2 linked regions of the Homo sapiens genome follow. The protein of the gene in region 2 purifies or fractionates together with the protein of the main gene of each other region. This does not show direct contact. Each region holds a gene or a part of one and is shown on either strand. Other genes may lie near its edges.

Region 1 (8,232 bases), on a different chromosome or scaffold from region 2:
TGACAACAGTTAGAAGCAACTAGATGCGTCCTGTGCACCAGGCACCTTTTACGAACTTCGCATGTCAGCTTGCTTAGCCCTTGCAGCAATTCTGTGTGATTGCACAATTATTATCCCTATTTTATTTTATTTATTTATTTATTTATTTTTATTTTTTTTGAGACGGAGTTTTGCTCTTGTTGTCCAGGCTGGAGTGCAATGGCGCAATCTCGGCTCACTGCAACCTCTGCCTCCCAGGTTCAAGCGATTCTCCTGCCTCAGCCTCCTGAGTAGCTGGGATTACAGGCATCTGCCACCACACCCAGCTTAATTTTGTATTTTTAGTAGAGGCAGGGTTTCACCATGTTGGTCAGGCTAGTCTCGAACTCCCGACCTCAGATAATCTGCCCACCTGGGCCTCCCAAAGTGCTGGGATTACAGGCATGAGCCACCGCGCCCGACTTTTATGCCTATTTTATAGATGAGAAACTAAAGCACAGAGAGGTTGAGTAATGTGCCCAAGGTCACACAGCCAATAAAATAGCGGCGCTGGGATTCAAACTCACCCAGTCTGACTCCAAAGTTAACTCAGTGATTTGGGGACACAGTCCACTGGTGATTGTCATTTGGCCCAGATAAGCTAGATTCGGTGAGACCCTCAGAGGTCTCGGGCTACCTTGTGAAGCTGGGCCCTGGATCTAAGCCACATGACGACCCCACAGAGCGCCTGTTACTCACGTGGTTGTGGATGAAAAGTCGCATGTGTTTCTGGGGGTAGTGGAGCCGCAGGAGCCGCTGGAAGAACAGGGACACAAACGGCGTGGGCTGTTCGATGAACACGCCGACCAGGACCGTGGGCAGAGCTTCATCCTGCACCAGGGAGGGCGGCACAAGAGTCCAGCAGTGTCCAGTCACAGCACTGCCACTCCACCCCAGGGTGGCCCAAGGGAGTCAGAGCCAGAATCAGAAGCATGTAGACTTCCCAAGAAAGGTGCCCGGGCCGGGGAACTCCAGTCAGGGGGTACGGGGGGGCAGGGAAGCAGCAGGAGGGTGCCCCGGGGAGAGAGCAGCAGGAGCCCAGGCCTGGAACAAGGACTCGGTTGAGGGCCTGCTGTCAGGAGATCGTGGCTGGCGTGGTGTTCGAGGTGAGTCATAAATGAGGATGAGGTTCATGGGATGGGGAGGGGGCTGCAGGAGAGCCTGAAGGACCAGGCAGAAGAAACCAGAACCTGGACATCTCGGGGGAAGCTAGAGACATGCAATCTGAGAGGGCTTCCAGGAGGAGGCACTTGGGTGGCAACCGGGATAGAACCCCAGGCAGGGAGGTGACCCCTTCACTTTCCACCAAAGACAATGGAGTCTATTCCAGAATCACCCATCTCGCCATCTCAGGGGACTGAGCCCCCCGTGTCCCTCAGGCACAGGCCTGGGCGCAGCCTCACCCCAATGCCCTTGAGGCTGCGCAAGCCTTCGTCACACACGGTGCAGCCTGTTTCGAAGGTCCAGAAGCGCGGGATGTAGTTGCCCAGGTAGTTCAACTGCAGCTGTCGGGGAGACGTGGGGTCACAGAGAAGCCAGCCAGCCCCACCTGCCATAGCCCTGACTCACATCTCCCTGGGCCCCCAGTGGGTCAGCACCATCCAGCCCCCTCCCACTCCCTAAGAGGGTCTTGGAGATAATGCTCCATCCCCAGGAGATCACCAAGCCGCTCTGAGAGAGGGCAGGGGAGGGCTTGGCACTCTAGTGCTTCTCCCGAGAGCTTGTAAAATGCAGATTCCTGGGTCCCACCCCGCTCAGAGATTCCATCTGAACAGATCCTGGGTGAAATCAGCAAATTTGCATTTTAAACACATCACATCCTCCTTCCTCTCCCTCATTCCAGCGGTGAAGGACCACACTCAAATATGCTATGAGCTATGAGCCAGTTCCCCAGGGACCAGTGAGGTCCATTCTGTCCCTGGCCGCATCTGCACCCAGTCCCTTCTGTCACCATGAATGCAGGACATCCGTCCTGCTTATGACTATGTCTTACTGTCTGGTGCAAACATGAAATAAAGGTTTACTGAGTGAATAAGTGACTCTGCCCTGGGGTGACAGTGCAGATGGCTCTGGTAGCCCAGCCTAGGCCTGGAAGGGGATGGCAGCCTCCTACGTGTCCTGTGACCAGCAAGAACAGACAGAGTACCACTGACCACCACAGCAGGAAAAGAAGGCATCACGCTGAGCTCAGATGTGAGGACAGAGGCAGTGAGTTCATAGCAGGCCCCAGGAAGGTGGCCCTGGCCCCAGGGAGACACTGTGGGGTCACAGTGAGAATGAAATTAGGGCTCTGGCCCCCTCCCACACTCCCCAGGGGCTGGGGACCCCCTACCTTGGTTGGCCCGTTGCCATGGATCAGGACCGGGAGGGTGTCATAGGCCAGGTTCCTCGCTCTCACATGGCCCATTTCAAACTTGAGCACGACCTCATCTGGGGGTCAGAAAGCACAGTCCCACCCAGCATCAGACCCAGAGGTCAGGCTCAGGGTCCAACCAGCTGGGCTCAAATCCCAGCTGTGCAGTGAGTAGATTATGTCCTCGGGCAAGTCACTTCTCTCTAAGCCTCAGTTTCCTCATCTATAAAATAGGAATAATCCCTTCTTCATGGGGTGAGGGGGAGGATTTGTGTTGAACAAGCGTGGGGCACCAAGCCTGGCCCATCATGAGCACAGAATCCACGGCAACCCCTGTACTTGTTGTGGTTACTTACAGTCAGAAGCAGGGGCTGGGAGAAGAACGAAGACCTGGAACATCCCAGCTCCAGGCACCTCAGAGAAGCCCCAAGAGAAAGGGTCTGGGACGCGCCTTCTCTGAGTAGGCAGAGCAGCACTGAGAAAATGCCAGAGCCACATGCAGGGGAGGCCTGGGCATGATCAGGACAGATCTTGTCCCAGTGGAGGGAGCCCCTGCAGCAGGGTTCCAATACTCATGTTTTTTGTGTGTGTTTTTGTTTTTTGTTTTTTAGAAATGGAGTCTCATTCTATTGCCCAGTGTGGAGTGTAGTGGCATGATCTCGGCTCACTGCAACCTCCGCCTCCCAGGTTCAAGTGATTTTCCTGCCTCAGCCTCCTGAGTAGCTGGGATTACAGGCACATGCCACCACACCCAGCTAATTTTTGTATTTTTAGTAGAGACGGGGTTTCACCATGTTGGTCAGGCTGGTCTTGAACTCATGACCTCTGGTGATCCACCCGCCTTGGCCTCCCAAAGTGCTGGGATTACAGTGCCTGGCCCCCAATACCCATGTTTGACCCTATTAGTCTGCACATAGGAAAATGGGTATTTCAGCTGGGCACGCTGGCGCACACCTGTAATCCCAGCACTTTGGGAGGCCAAGGTGGGAGGATCACTTGAGCCCAGGAGTTTGAGACAAGCCTGCGCAACATAGTGAGACCCTGTCTCTATTTTAAAAATTAAAATAGGGCTGGGCACGATGGCTCACGTCTGTAATCTCAGCACTTTGGGAGGCCAAGGCAGGTGGATCACCTGAGGTCAGGAGTTCGAGACCAGCCTGGCCAACATGGTGAAACCCCATCTCTACTAAAAAAATACAAAAATTAGCCGGGCATGGTGGTGTGCGCCTGTAATCCCAGCTACTTGGGAGGCTGAGGCAGGAGAATCACTTGAACCTGGGAGGCGGAGGTTGCAGTGAGTCGAGAATTCGCCACTGCATTCCAGCCTGGGCGATGGAGCAAGACTCCATCTTAAAAAAGAAGAAAAAAAAAGGAAAACAGATAGCTCCTGACCTGCGTGGATCTGAACTCAGTGCTTCTTAACCCCCAGAAACCACAGGCAAAGGGCATTTTCTGCGTTTCTCTGGGAGCAGAGCCGTAGCTTTCATCAGATTCTCAAAAGGGCCCATTTATCCACAAAATCAGCAATCAGTGGATCCGGTTCACTTCCCTTTTGTAAAGATAAGAAAACTGAGTCCCCTGTGGGGAGGAGGTGTGACTTGCCTGAGGTCACTCAGGAAGACAGGAAGACCTGCGGCAAAGCAATGTCATCACCAGCCACAGACATGAGGCCAGGCCCAGGGATGTTTGCGGCATCAAGGGTCAAGTAGCCTTTTGCTTCCCAAGCTGCCTGTCCCACCAGCTGAGTTCCTGCCCCTAGCCCAGGACTCCTTCACCTGGAAGGTGGGAGGGCCGGGAAAGTGGGGAAAGAGGGCCCACCTGTAAGGACCTGGTATGCAGGGCAGGGGGTCCAGCACCTGCTGTGCGCATCCCCCAACTCCTCCCAGGCTGAATGCTCACTTGTCCCCCGCCCCCAAGAGAGACATGGCTCTGCGCCAGGATATCCAAGTGGCCCCTGGGGACCTGGGGATGAGGCCAGTGACCTCTCAGCACAATGGCCAGAAAGAAGCAGCCCATTTCTCCTCCCTGGGCTCGGGCCCTGCCTGGAATTCTTCCTATCACCCCTCTGAGGATCCACCCCTCCCCGTGGGGGCTGCTCACCCAAGGCTCCATCCAGGTTCTGGAAGATACGGCAGCGGTGGTCCAGGGTGATATTGATCTGCTCCTGCAGGAAAGAAGGTACCAGACTGCAGCAGGGACAGGCCCTGGGGGAGGCTGGGGCTACATCTCACCCAGTGTGGGGAATCTGTCCCCAAGTTCAGCCCTCATTCCCCACACCGACTCTGCCACGTCACATCAGGGCAGCTAGGTGCCCAGAGAAGGCCAGCAGCCAAGCTCCTGGGGTCTACAGTCTAGTGGCTCTACTCACAGAAAACCAGGGACTCTGAACTGGAAGGAATCTAAGAATGCAGCCGGCTCACCTACAACAATGACGGCCGTTAAGAGTAACCAGCACCTGCCAAGCACTCCACTACACGCACATAGCTACTCCAAATATTCTTTTTTTTGAGAAAGAGTTTCGCTCTTGTCACCCAGGCTGGAGTGCAATGGCACGACCTCGACTCACTGCAACCTCCGCCTCCTGGGTTCAAGCGATTCTCCTGCCTCAGACTCCTGAGTAGCTGGGACTACGGGCATGTGCCACCATACCCAGCTAATTTTTTTTTTTTTTTTTTTTTTTTTTGCTAGAGATGGGATTTCACCACATTGAGCAGGCTGGTCTCGAACTCCTGACCTCAGGTGATCCGCCCCCGCCCCCCGCCTCCCAAAGTGCTGGGATGACAGGTGTGAGCCACCGCACCTGGCCGCTACTCCAAATATTCTACACGAGTCGGGTGCGGTGGCTCACTCCTGTCATTCCAGCACTTTGGGAGGCTGAGGCAGAAGGATCACTTGAGCCCAGGAGTTTGAGACCAGCTTGGGCAACATAGCAAAACTTCATCTCTATAAAAAAATCTTAAAATTAGCCAGACATGGTGACGCAGGCCTATAGTCCCAGCTACTCAGGAGGCTGAGGTGGGAGGATCGCTTGAGTCCGGGAGGCTGAGGCTGCAGTGAGCTATGTTTCTGCCACTGCGCATCAGCCTGGGTGACAGTGAGACCCTGTCTCAAATAAATAAATAAACTATTCTACATATATTAATCAATTTAATCCTGACAACATCTCTGTGAGAAAGTATTATCATTATTGCTTTTTTTTTTGAGATGGAGTCTGGCTCTTGTCACCCAGGCTGCAGTGCAATGGCACAATCTCGGCTCACTGCAACCTCCGCCTCCCAGGTCCAAGCAATTCTCCTGCCTCAGCCTCCTGAGTAGCTGGGATTACAGGCACCCACCACCACGCACGGCTAATCTTTATATTTTTAGTAGAGACAGGGTTTCATCATGTTGGCCAGGCTGGTCTCAAACTCCTGACCTCAGGTGATCCACCCGCTTTGGCCTCCAAAGTGCTGGGATTACAGGCATGAGCCACTGGGTCTGGCCCATTATTGCATTTCATAACGGAAAAAACAAGGGACAGAGAAGTTGCCCAATGTCACACAGCTAGTAAATGGTGAGCTGGGATTGGAACCCAGGCAGCCTGGCCCTGAAGTCCTTATTCTGAACCAATGAACAATGCTGCCTCTTTAAGACCCGACAGCCGGGCACGGTGGCTCACGACTGTAATCCCAGCACTTTGAGAGGCCGAGGCGGGTAAATCACCTGAGGACAGGAGTTCGAGACCAGCCTGGCGAACGTAGTGAAACCCTGTCTCTACTAAAAATACAAAAATCAGCCAAACGTGGTGGTGCACGCCTGTAGTCCCCGCTACTCGAGACGCTGAGGCTCGAGAATCGCTTGAACCAGGGAGGTAGAGGCTGTAGTGAGCCGAGATCGCACCACTGTACTCTAGCCTGGGCAATACAGTGAGACTCCATCCCAAAAATAAAAAAATAGGATTAGTGTCCTTATCAATGAGGCCCCAGTGAGCTCCCTACCCCCTTCCACCATCTGAGGACACAGAGAGAAGTCAGCTGTGTCTGTACCAGTTAGAGGGCTCTGACCAGAACCCAACTGTGATCTCACCCTTCCGGCCTCCAGAACCATGAGAAATCCACATCCGTTGTTTGGGAGCCACCCAGCCTATGGCAGTTTGTCAGAGCAGCCTGCATAGACTAAGACACCAACCCAGGGGTTCAGGCCTGAGAGGAGCTGTTCCCGTGCAGCCTGGCCGGTGGATCCCCAGCCCCCTCTCCTTGGCCCGCCCACTGCCTCTTACCCTCTTCTCCGGGTCCAAGAAGATCTTGGTGTAAAACAGCTGATCGCTGTCGCTGTCCTGGCCCTCCCACTCGGCCACCAGTTTGCTGAGGTTGGGGGCATAACCGATGAAGCCTGAAGGTTGGTGGGTGGGGACACCAAGACGGACCCTTAGCTTCCAGCCTCTAAGTCAGGGGCCTCCTCCCACCCTTCCCTCTTATCCACCTCCACTCATATGCCCACAAACCCTGTCACCTCTCAGAAGTCCTCCTGAATTGACAGGAGGTGGGGCTGCAGGTTGGAAATGGGGCTGCCAGTGAATGTCACTTATTAATGAGTTCCTAATGACCCCAAGAATAAGACCAATGGTGCCCACTAAGCTGTACTGTTCAGTGCTGGGCACCATATAGGTGGTGAAGAAACGGATTGTACGAGGAGCCCCTGGAGAGCAGGGCTGGGAGGATACAGGCCTGGTGTCCCTTTTTACAGTTATCTGGGAAACCTGGCCCAGAGAAGGGAAAGGCTGGGCCAAGCTCACAGAGTGCCTTGGGGGCTGAGACCTGGCATAGTGGGGAAGCCCACATGGGCCCCTGGCTAGAGTACAGACTGGTGACAAGCAACCACAAGAGCAATGGGACATCCCTACTCCTGGGCCTGGGCCAGGGCAAGGCCATCTGGACTGTGCTTACTCTGGACCAGTGGAAAAAAGTGTCTGTTGAGGGCAGATGGCAGATCCCCATCTAAGGTTGAAAAGAGGCCTGTGGATTTTATTCTCCGTGCAGTGGAAAGTCATTAAGTGATGTGTGTGAATTTGCATCTTTATTTATTTATTTATTTTTAAGACAATGTCTCGCTCTGTCGCCCAGGCTGGAGTGCAGTGGCACGATCTCGGCTCACTGCAAGCTCCGCCTCCCGGGTTCATGCCATTCTCCTGCCTCAGCCTCCCGAGTAGCTGGGACTACAGGCGCCTGCCACCACACCTGGCTAATTTTTTGTATTTTTAGTGGAGACGGGGTTTCATCGTGTTAGCCAGGATGGTCTCGATCTCCTGACCTCGTGATCCGCCCACCTCGGCCTCCCAAAGTGCTGAGATTACAGGCATGAGCCACCAATATATATATTATATATATTATATAAATTATTATATATAATATATATAATATATTTTACATTATAAAAAAATATAGTATTATTTTTTATTTAAAAAAATTATTTATTTTTTTGAGTGCAGTGGCACCATCTCAGCTCACTGCAACCTCTACCTCCTGGGTTCAAGAGATTCTCCTGCCTCAGCTTCCCAAGTAGCTGGGATTACAGGCGTGTACCACCACGCCCGGCTACCTTTTATATTTTTAGTAGAGATGGGGTTTCGCCATGTTGGCCAGGCTGGTCTTGAACTCCTGGCCTCAAGTGATCCTCCCACCTCGGCTTCCCAAAGTGCTGACATTACAGGCGTGAGCCACCGCGCCTGGCCTTGGATTTGCATCGTTTAAAGACACCTCTGGCTGCTGGATGGAGAATGGCCTGGAAGGGCATGAGGGTAGGGAATGGCAGAGCAGTAAGGAGGCTCCTACCAACGGCCAGGAGCCCAGTGAGAATGGTGGCAGTGAACTGTGGGCCAGAGA
Region 2 (8,232 bases):
GTCAAATCCAGGCTTTTCTGACTCCCTCTTAGTCAAGATGCCCCCAGGCCCACGTAAGACAAGACCCCTCATCAGCTCGCTGGGCCCCATCCAGCTGCCTGGTCCCCAGCTCTCACTGCGAACCTTCAGCCTCTCATTCTCCAGCTTGAATGCGGAATACTCAGCAGTCTGACGGTGTAGTCTCTCCACCAGGCTATCCCGGTCTTCCCGCATCTTCTCCTCCAGGGTTTGTTGTTGGTTTACAAGATCTGTTACCCGGCTGGAAGATCACAAAGTGAAAGCAGACAGAGAGAATCAATTACACAGGTTTGTTTGTGTGTGTGTGTGTGTGTGTGTGTGTGTGTTTTGTTTGTTTGTTTTTTTAGACGGAGTCTCGCTCTGTCACCTAGGCTGGAGTGCAGTGGCGCGATCTTGGCTCACTGCAAGCTCCGCCTCCCGTGTTCATGCCATTCTCCTGCCTCAGCCTCCCGAGTAGCTGGGACTACAGGCGCCCACCGCCACGCCCGGCTAAGTTCTTGTATTTTTAGTAGAGACGGGGTTTCACCGTGTTAGCCAGGATGGTCTCGATCTCCTGACCTCGTGATCTGCCCGCCTCGGCCTCCCAAAATGCTGGGATTACAGGTGTGAGCCACCGCACCCGGCCAATTACACAGGTTCTAAAGAACCCAGGTCTTTGTGTGGTGTGGGACCCAGCGTTCTCATCACTCAATATACTGCCTGCCTGCTCCCCAATCTCCACACTGAGAAGCAACTCTGCTGCCCTGCCTTGGCATTGCTGCTGTGGTACTCCCATGCCTGTCCCACCTCTGAACGACGTCCGTTAAGATGTGTCTCCCATACCTCCCCCTCCAAGAAACCATCTACAATTCAACAATAAGCAATGACTTATTAAGAGAAGTGTGGGCTGGGTGTGGCAGCTCACACCTGTAATCCCAGTGCTTTGGGAGGCCAAGGTGGGAGGATTGCTTGAGCCCAGCAGTTGAAGGTTGCAGTGAGCTATGCTGGTGCCACTGCACTATAGCCTGGGTGAAGGAGCAAGACCTTGTCTCCATTAAGAAAAAAAAGAGAGAGAGAGAGAGAGGGATGTGTACCCATCTTGATCCTCTCATAAGGCCAAGATACCCTTTGAAGGCAAGGACCAGAGACATGATCCCTTCCCAACTCCCTATGACACCTCCTGGAATCTCTCTGCCTATCAGGTCTTGGTGTTAGGACAGACGCTTCTGGAATCCCTTCTTGGACTCCCAGGCTGGTGGTCAGGGATTATCACCCAGGCATTCCTCTCCAGCAGGGCCCTGAGCACCCTGGGCTTTTGTACCCCCAGCAGGGGGCTGGTGCCATGATTGCTCATTCACATATGAACACTCACCTAACACAGGCAGGAACGGCAATGAGTGTGGTGTGGGAAAAAGGCACAAATAGAAAGACGCCAACTTAGAAGCCAGCTGCCTGCCCCACCCCCAGTCCCTTCTGCTCCCTGCTGCTGCCTCAGTCACTCAGCAAGGCCATCATCAGTCAAAGAGCAGAGACTGTGGCCTCAAGAGGAGCCCTGGGGCTCACAGGTGCTTACTCCTCTATCTTGACCACAGACCCATCAAAAACCCTTTGCACAATATGTGCTCTCAGTATTGACCAATTACAGTCCACCACTGAACACTGACTAGGCCCAAGCAAACATATCAGTTTGCTGGCAACTCCAGTTTACCTGGCAAACTCCTACTCACACTTAAAAACCCAGTTCAGACTTCAAGACATCTTGTCCCTGACCCCTCCCCTGTACCATGTATGCTTCTGTCTTAGGTATCTATGTTCTCCCACTAGACAGAGAACTCCCTAAGGACAGCAGCTGGCATAGAGCCTGGCACATAGTGAGTTCTCAGAACATGTTTGCTAAGTTGAGTTGAATACAGTAAGAGACTTTCCTGACCTGGGAGATTAAATGAGCTCCCCCATGACCTATCCTTAGTCCAGGGAGTCCATGCCTCTTGTAGCCCTATCTCCTCTACAGAGTAGAGGGCAGGGAATGCATTTGTCTTCTTACTGCTGTAACCCTGGTGGCCAGCACACAGCAGCTTGGTATATGGTAGATGCTCAATATATGTTTTTCCAATAAATGAAGGAAAAAAGGAGAATGATGGAATGGTCACTATTCACAGTTCGCCAGTGGCAAGAAAGGTGTCAGCTCAGTCACTTGCAAATTGAGGCCACTTTTGCCCCCTACTCCCATGCCATACCACTGACCTACTGACTGGCAGGCACTGGCAAACAGCTGCTGTCCCTGGACAGACAACAGAGAGAAGACACTCGGGTCACCATCTGCCCCATTCCCCAATAGGAATGAGGACACCACGGTGCCCATTTCAAATGCTGTGTAGACTGAGGACAGGATCAGGCCCAGGTGATGAAGTCAGACCCACACCTCTGACCAGAAAGACCCGGCCCCTAGCCAGTGCCTGACAGTAGGGTAGGACCCCAGGACTAGGGCCAGAGCTTGCACCCCAGCTCCAACCAGAAAGCCCAGCTCAGGGCTACCCACATCACAGCCCAGTGCAGCCCCCAACCCGGAGAGTACAAACAGCAGCCACGTGGCCTTCCCTGAGCCACTAGGCCCCTCCCACCTGCACACCCAAGTCCCTCAACAGCGCCACATTCCCTCTCCTACTCTAAGACGTACTCATTCAGGACAATAATTTCCAGCTCAAGGTCTCCCTTTTCTTTTACAACTTGGTTGTAGCGGCTCCTCCAGGATTCCAGAGTGGATAAAGCTTCAGCGACATAAAGATCCTGGGAACACGGGACAAAAGGGCCTGTTAGCCTAGTGTCAGTGGTGAGGCTGCCAGGAGCTGGGAGCGGGCTCATCCTAGGTGGTTTCTCACCCTGGTAACCTAAACCTCATTCTGGAATTCACCTTTCTAGAGGGCGCTGGAAGCAACAGTGGGAGCCCAGCTAGTGCTCCCAGATTTCTAGCAATCAAATGCATCCTGTTTGTAAATCCTTCCTTAACCATTATTCTCACCCACAAAGCTGATGTGGCTGAACTCTCCTACAAAGCCTCCAATCATCTCCAGCCACCCATCCCTCCAGCTTTTACCCATTTGATCCCCTTAACTCCCTCTCCCTCCTCCCCAGCCATCTATCCTTTCCACCACTACCATCCCTCATCCACCCACCCCTCCCCGCTACCCATCTGGCTGACCACCCCTCTGCCATCACCCAGCCCTCCTCAGGGCAGGTGAGGAGCTGGGCACCGCGGGCCTGCGACCTTGTCAGCGAGTTGCACGTGTAGCTGCTCAGCATACTCCTCGCTCTTCTCGGCTCGCTCCTTCTGGGCTCGGATGGCCTTCTTCAAGCTCTCTTTGTCTCGGTCTCCCTTCTGCTTCAACTCCTTCAGCTGCTCCATGATGGCCTCCACTTCTGCCTTATGCTGATTCCCGCTGCGCTCCAGATTCTGGAAGGGGGAAGGGGTGAGAAAGAGAGGGAGAAGAGAGACAAGGAGGTTGTGGGAAGGCAAAGCAGAGGGTGAAGGAGAAAGGGAGGAAAAGGCAAGAGCAAAGAGGAAACGAGGAAGACAGAAAAAAGTGCTTAGCTGTGTGAGAGGCTCCCCTAACTCGGACCAGAGACACAGTCCCTCCCAGCTCCCCACGACACCTCCCTGGATCTCTCAGCCCATGGGGTCTTGATATTAGGTCAGAACTGCTCTGGAATCCTTCCCTGAACTCCCAGCCTTGTGGTCAGAGATAGTTCCTTGGTCACTCAGCAGAGTATGACCTCAGAGGACCCCTGGGCTACAAAGAGACCATCCCTTTCCCTTGGGTAATGAGGAGAACTGAGGGCCTAGGGGATTAAGTGATAGGCCTGGGGGGCATGGCACGCAACCCCGTCACTGTTGGGAAGGATGCCCAACACCTCCTGGGTCTCTGTCCATTGCTCTTGCCACTGTCCTGGAATGTCTCTGAGGCCTGAGTATTTTGTCATCAGCTGCCTCAGAAACCTTTGGAGGCACACTTCCTGAGTGTGATATCTGGGCCAGGCCGCTACCATCAAATTGGCAGGCCCTTGCCTCCTCTTTCCCCACTTGTGGGGCCAATAGGTACCTTAATCTGCATGCACAGGCGACTGTTCTCAGCCTCTTTGGACCGAAGCTGTGCCTGCAAATGCCCACGCATGGACTCCATGGATTTAGAAAGCTCAGAGGCTGTCTTTGCTTGAGCCTGTGGAGAGACGGAAAAAGTGATGGAGGCACAATTTTTTGTTTGTTTTTTTCATACGGAGTCTTGCTCCGTTTCCCAGGCTGGAGTGCAGTGGCGCAATCTCAGCTCACTGCAACCTCCACCTCTTGGGCTCCAGCGATTCTCCCGCCTCAGCCTCCTGAGTAGCTGGGGTTACAGTCACGTGCCATCAAAACCGGCTAGTTTTTTGTATTTTTAGTAGAGACAGGGTTTCACCATGTTGGCCAGACTGGTCTCGATCTCCTGACCTCAAGTGATCCACCTGCCTCGGCCTCCCAAAGTGCTGGGATTACAGGCGTGAGCCACCGCGCATGGTCAATAATTTTTTTTTTTTTTTTTGAGACAGGGTATCACTGTTGCCAAGGCTGGAGTGCAGTGGCGTGACCATGACTCATTGCAGCCTCAGTCTCCCAGGCTCAAGTGATCCTCCCATCTCAGCATCCAGAGTAGCTGGAACTACAGGTGCATGCCACCACACCTGGCTGATTTTTTAATTTTAATTTTAATTTTGTAGAGATGGGGTCTCCCTGTGTTGCCCAGGACAGTCTCAAACTCCTGGCCTCAATGAGTCCTCCTGCATTGGCCTCCCAAAGTGCTAGGGAGTGGCCTAGGCTGGTCTCGAAAAAGTGCCAGACATGAGCTACTGCACCCGGCCCAAAGACAGGATTTGAACCCAGCTCTCTGCATATCCATTATATTCTACTGGCTCATAAAAATGCACAACTGCGGCTGGGCGCAGTGGCTCATGCCTGTAATCCAGCACTTTGGGAGGCCGAGGCAGGCAGATCACGAGGTCAAGAGATCAAGACCATCCTGGCCAACATGGTGAAACCCCGTCTCTACTAAAAATACAAAAATTAGCTGGGCGTGGTGGCGCACGCCTGTAGTCCCAGCTACTCGGGAGGCTGAGGCAGGAGAATCACTCAAATCCGGGAGGCAGAGGTTGCAGCGAGCTGAGATCGCGCCATTGCACTCCAGCCTGGCGACAGAGCGAGACTCCGTCTAAAAAAAAAAAAAAAAAAAGCACACTACCTTCTCACATTGTATTTCCTGAAGGAGCTCTTCCACCTCCTTGTCCTTGTCTTGCAGCAGTAACAGCAGGCGCTGGGAGAGAACACAGGCTGTCAGGTGCCCCTGGGAAGGGCAAAGAGGCCCGGCCCAGGGAGGACAGAGATTTGTGAGTACCTGGCCACTGGGGCCCAAGGTCCTACATACATTGGCCCATGTCAGAGATTCTGGTAGGAAGCACCTAACATATGCATTAAAACATTTTTTTAAAACAATGAACATGTATTTATTTTGCAATTTAAGAACAGCAATGTTAACTGTAGAAAACATTGAGAACACACCAAAAAAATCCTCCAAAGAAACCCCGTAACCCCCCATGCAGAGATAACCAGTTAATGCACATTGAAACTCATATGCTCAGCACCGTTAAAAAAAAAAAGTCATATGCCTACTTCGTTCCATAGCCTAAAAGCTCATGTTTACCATAATGTGATTAAATCTTCTGTGTCTTTTGAAAGAGCTGCTTGACGGTTCAAGTTACTGATGTATATCATAACTTAACAAGGGTTCTTGAGCTGGGAATGCACATTTAGGCATTATCGCCGAGCTTGCTGCATCTCCACTCCTTCCTCAACTAAGCATCAGAGGCCACAGACCACACCTTGGGAAACTGGGCCTCCGTCTCCCTCCCCTCTCTTGGAGACTTACAAAAGCATTAATACAGCAGACACTCCAAAAAAGTCTTGAAAGAAGCTGTTGAACTTCATGTTCAGGCCAGCCTATGGTTTCCCAAATTTAACTGGCTATGGAACCTCCCCTTCGGTTTCTTGCACTCATTAACATCTTGAGGAACTTAGGGTTCCATGAACAGACTTTGGAACATGCTGCTTTGGGAGAGATTCCTAGAATTAGGATTACTGAGTCCAAAGGTGTGTACTTTTTGATGGCTTTGAATCCATAATACTAATTTGATGGAAATCCAGCTTTAACAGACACGGATGATTTACAAATCCAACATCATCATTACCCTCTCTATGTTGGTGTCCAGCTTTGTGGCTCAAGGTCTCAAGTAACTAACTAGACAAGCCTATCAGAACAAGCGTGACAGGAGGACATCAGCCCATTTTACAGATCGTGAAACTAAGACCTAGCGAAATGCTCCAGCCCTCCTGCCTTGATCCAAGCACCTCTACACTTTGTAGTGGAACGACGCTCTTGCCACCTGTACCCACTAGAGTAGACAAGGGCAGCCTTAGTTACCGCTTTCTCTGAGTCGGCCTCCGCCAGCCGTTTCAGCAGTGCTCCTTGTTGCTCCATTAGTCTTTCAGAATCCTTCAAAGAAAGGCAAAGGAAAAAGTCAAGTCATTAAGCAATAAACCCAGATGTCTACATTTTATTGATTCTTTACCTTTTCCAAAAATTGTATTTTTTTTTTTTTTTAGAGTCTTACTCTGTTGCCCAGGCTGGAGTGCAGTGGTGCAATCATGGCTCACTGCAGCCTGGTCCTTCTGGGCTCAAGCCATCCTCCCATCTCAGCCTCCAAAGTAGCTGGAACAACAAGCATGCACTACCATGCCCAACTTTTTAAACATTATTATTATTTGTAGAGTTGGAGGGTCTCCCTGTTTGCCCAGGCTGGTCTTGAACTCCTGGGTTCAAACAATCTGCCTGCTTTGGCCTCCCCAAGTGCTGGGATTACAGGTGTGAGCCACCACACCTGGCCCAAAAAACTGTAGTTCTAATTTGAAAAGTAATGTGAATATATTCTCACTATAAAATAGTGAATGCTAATAAAGCTACAGTTCCTCCTGTACCCACCTCCAAACCCTACCCTACTGCTATTAGTTTGAGGAGTATCCTTCCCATCCTTTTTCTCTACATCTACAGAGAAATACTGTATTTCTCTGTATTGAAAATACTGTACAGAATACTGTATTGAAATACTGTTTCTCTGTAATGAAACAGCATTTTGCTGCATCAAGAGAAATACTGTTTGTCTCTGGGGGAAGGGGAAAGGGATTCATGTGTAACTTTAGGAAAATAATATCATATTGTATTTATGTGTTAATTTTTTTTAATTTTTTTTATTTTTTAGAGAGGAAGTCTCGCTCTTGTCCCCCAGGCTGGAGTGCGATGGCACGATCTCGGCTCACTGCAACCTCTGCCTCCCAGGTTCAAGCGATTCTCCTGCCTCAGCCTCCCGAGTAGCTGGGATTACAGATAACTGCCACCACGCCCGGCTAATTTTTGTATTTTTAGCAGAGACAGGGTTTCACCATGTTAGCCAGGCTGGTCTCAAACTCCTGACCTCAGGTGATCTGCCCGCCTTGGCCTCCCAAAGTGCTGGGATTACAGGCGTGAGCCACCATGCCCAGCTGTTACTTGATTTTTAAAAACAGCTTTATTGAGATATAAATTTGAACACCATTTAAAGTGTACAGCATGGTGACTATAATTAATGATGTATTATATACTTGAAATCTGCTAGGAGATCTTAAGTGTTGTCACCACACACACACAAAAAGGTAACCATGTGACGTGATGGATGTGTTAATCAGCTTGATTGAGGTGGTCACTTTACAATGTATATGGGTATCAAATCATCACGATGAACATCTTAAAATGTATACTACTTCTGTTTGTCAAATATACCTCAATAAAGCTAGAAGAAAAAATAAAGTATACAATTAAATGGCTTTGGTATATTCCATTATTAACTTTTAAAAATTGTGGTAAAATATATGTAACATAAAACTTGTCATTTTAACCTTTTTATTTCTTTTAGAGACACAGTCTAGCTCTGTCACCCAAGCTGGAGTGCATGTTGTAATCATGGATCATAGCTCACTGCAACCTTGATATCCTGGACTCAAGTGATCCTCCCACCTCAGCCTCCTCAGTAGCTGGGACCACAGGTGTGTGCCACCACACCTGGCTAACCATTTTTAAGCGTAAAATTCAGTGGCATTTAGTATATTCATAATACTGTACAACC

What was found.
Region 1: the proteins of ODF2 (region 2) and PLOD1 purify together in Homo sapiens (affinity purification with mass spectrometry; 2 studies listed by BioGRID and IntAct, with this or other methods). This does not show direct contact.

What each region holds. Positions count from the first base shown.
Region 1 is NC_000001.11:11,951,133-11,959,364, reverse strand, and holds part of PLOD1 (procollagen-lysine,2-oxoglutarate 5-dioxygenase 1 isoform 2 precursor), read right to left. Parts: intron 6,743-8,232; coding exon 6,630-6,742; intron 4,536-6,629; coding exon 4,472-4,535; intron 2,449-4,471; coding exon 2,351-2,448; intron 1,524-2,350; coding exon 1,422-1,523; intron 850-1,421; coding exon 718-849; intron 1-717. UniProt on the Homo sapiens protein: Part of a complex composed of PLOD1, P3H3 and P3H4 that catalyzes hydroxylation of lysine residues in collagen alpha chains and is required for normal assembly and cross-linkling of collagen fibrils.
Region 2 is NC_000009.12:128,479,917-128,488,148, reverse strand, and holds part of ODF2 (outer dense fiber protein 2), read right to left. Parts: intron 7,937-8,232; exon of another isoform or gene 7,333-7,936; intron 6,570-7,332; coding exon 6,498-6,569; intron 5,334-6,497; coding exon 5,262-5,333; intron 4,212-5,261; coding exon 4,095-4,211; intron 3,449-4,094; coding exon 3,263-3,448; intron 2,785-3,262; coding exon 2,675-2,784; intron 307-2,674; exon of another isoform or gene 260-306; coding exon 124-259; exon of another isoform or gene 1-123. UniProt on the Homo sapiens protein: Seems to be a major component of sperm tail outer dense fibers (ODF).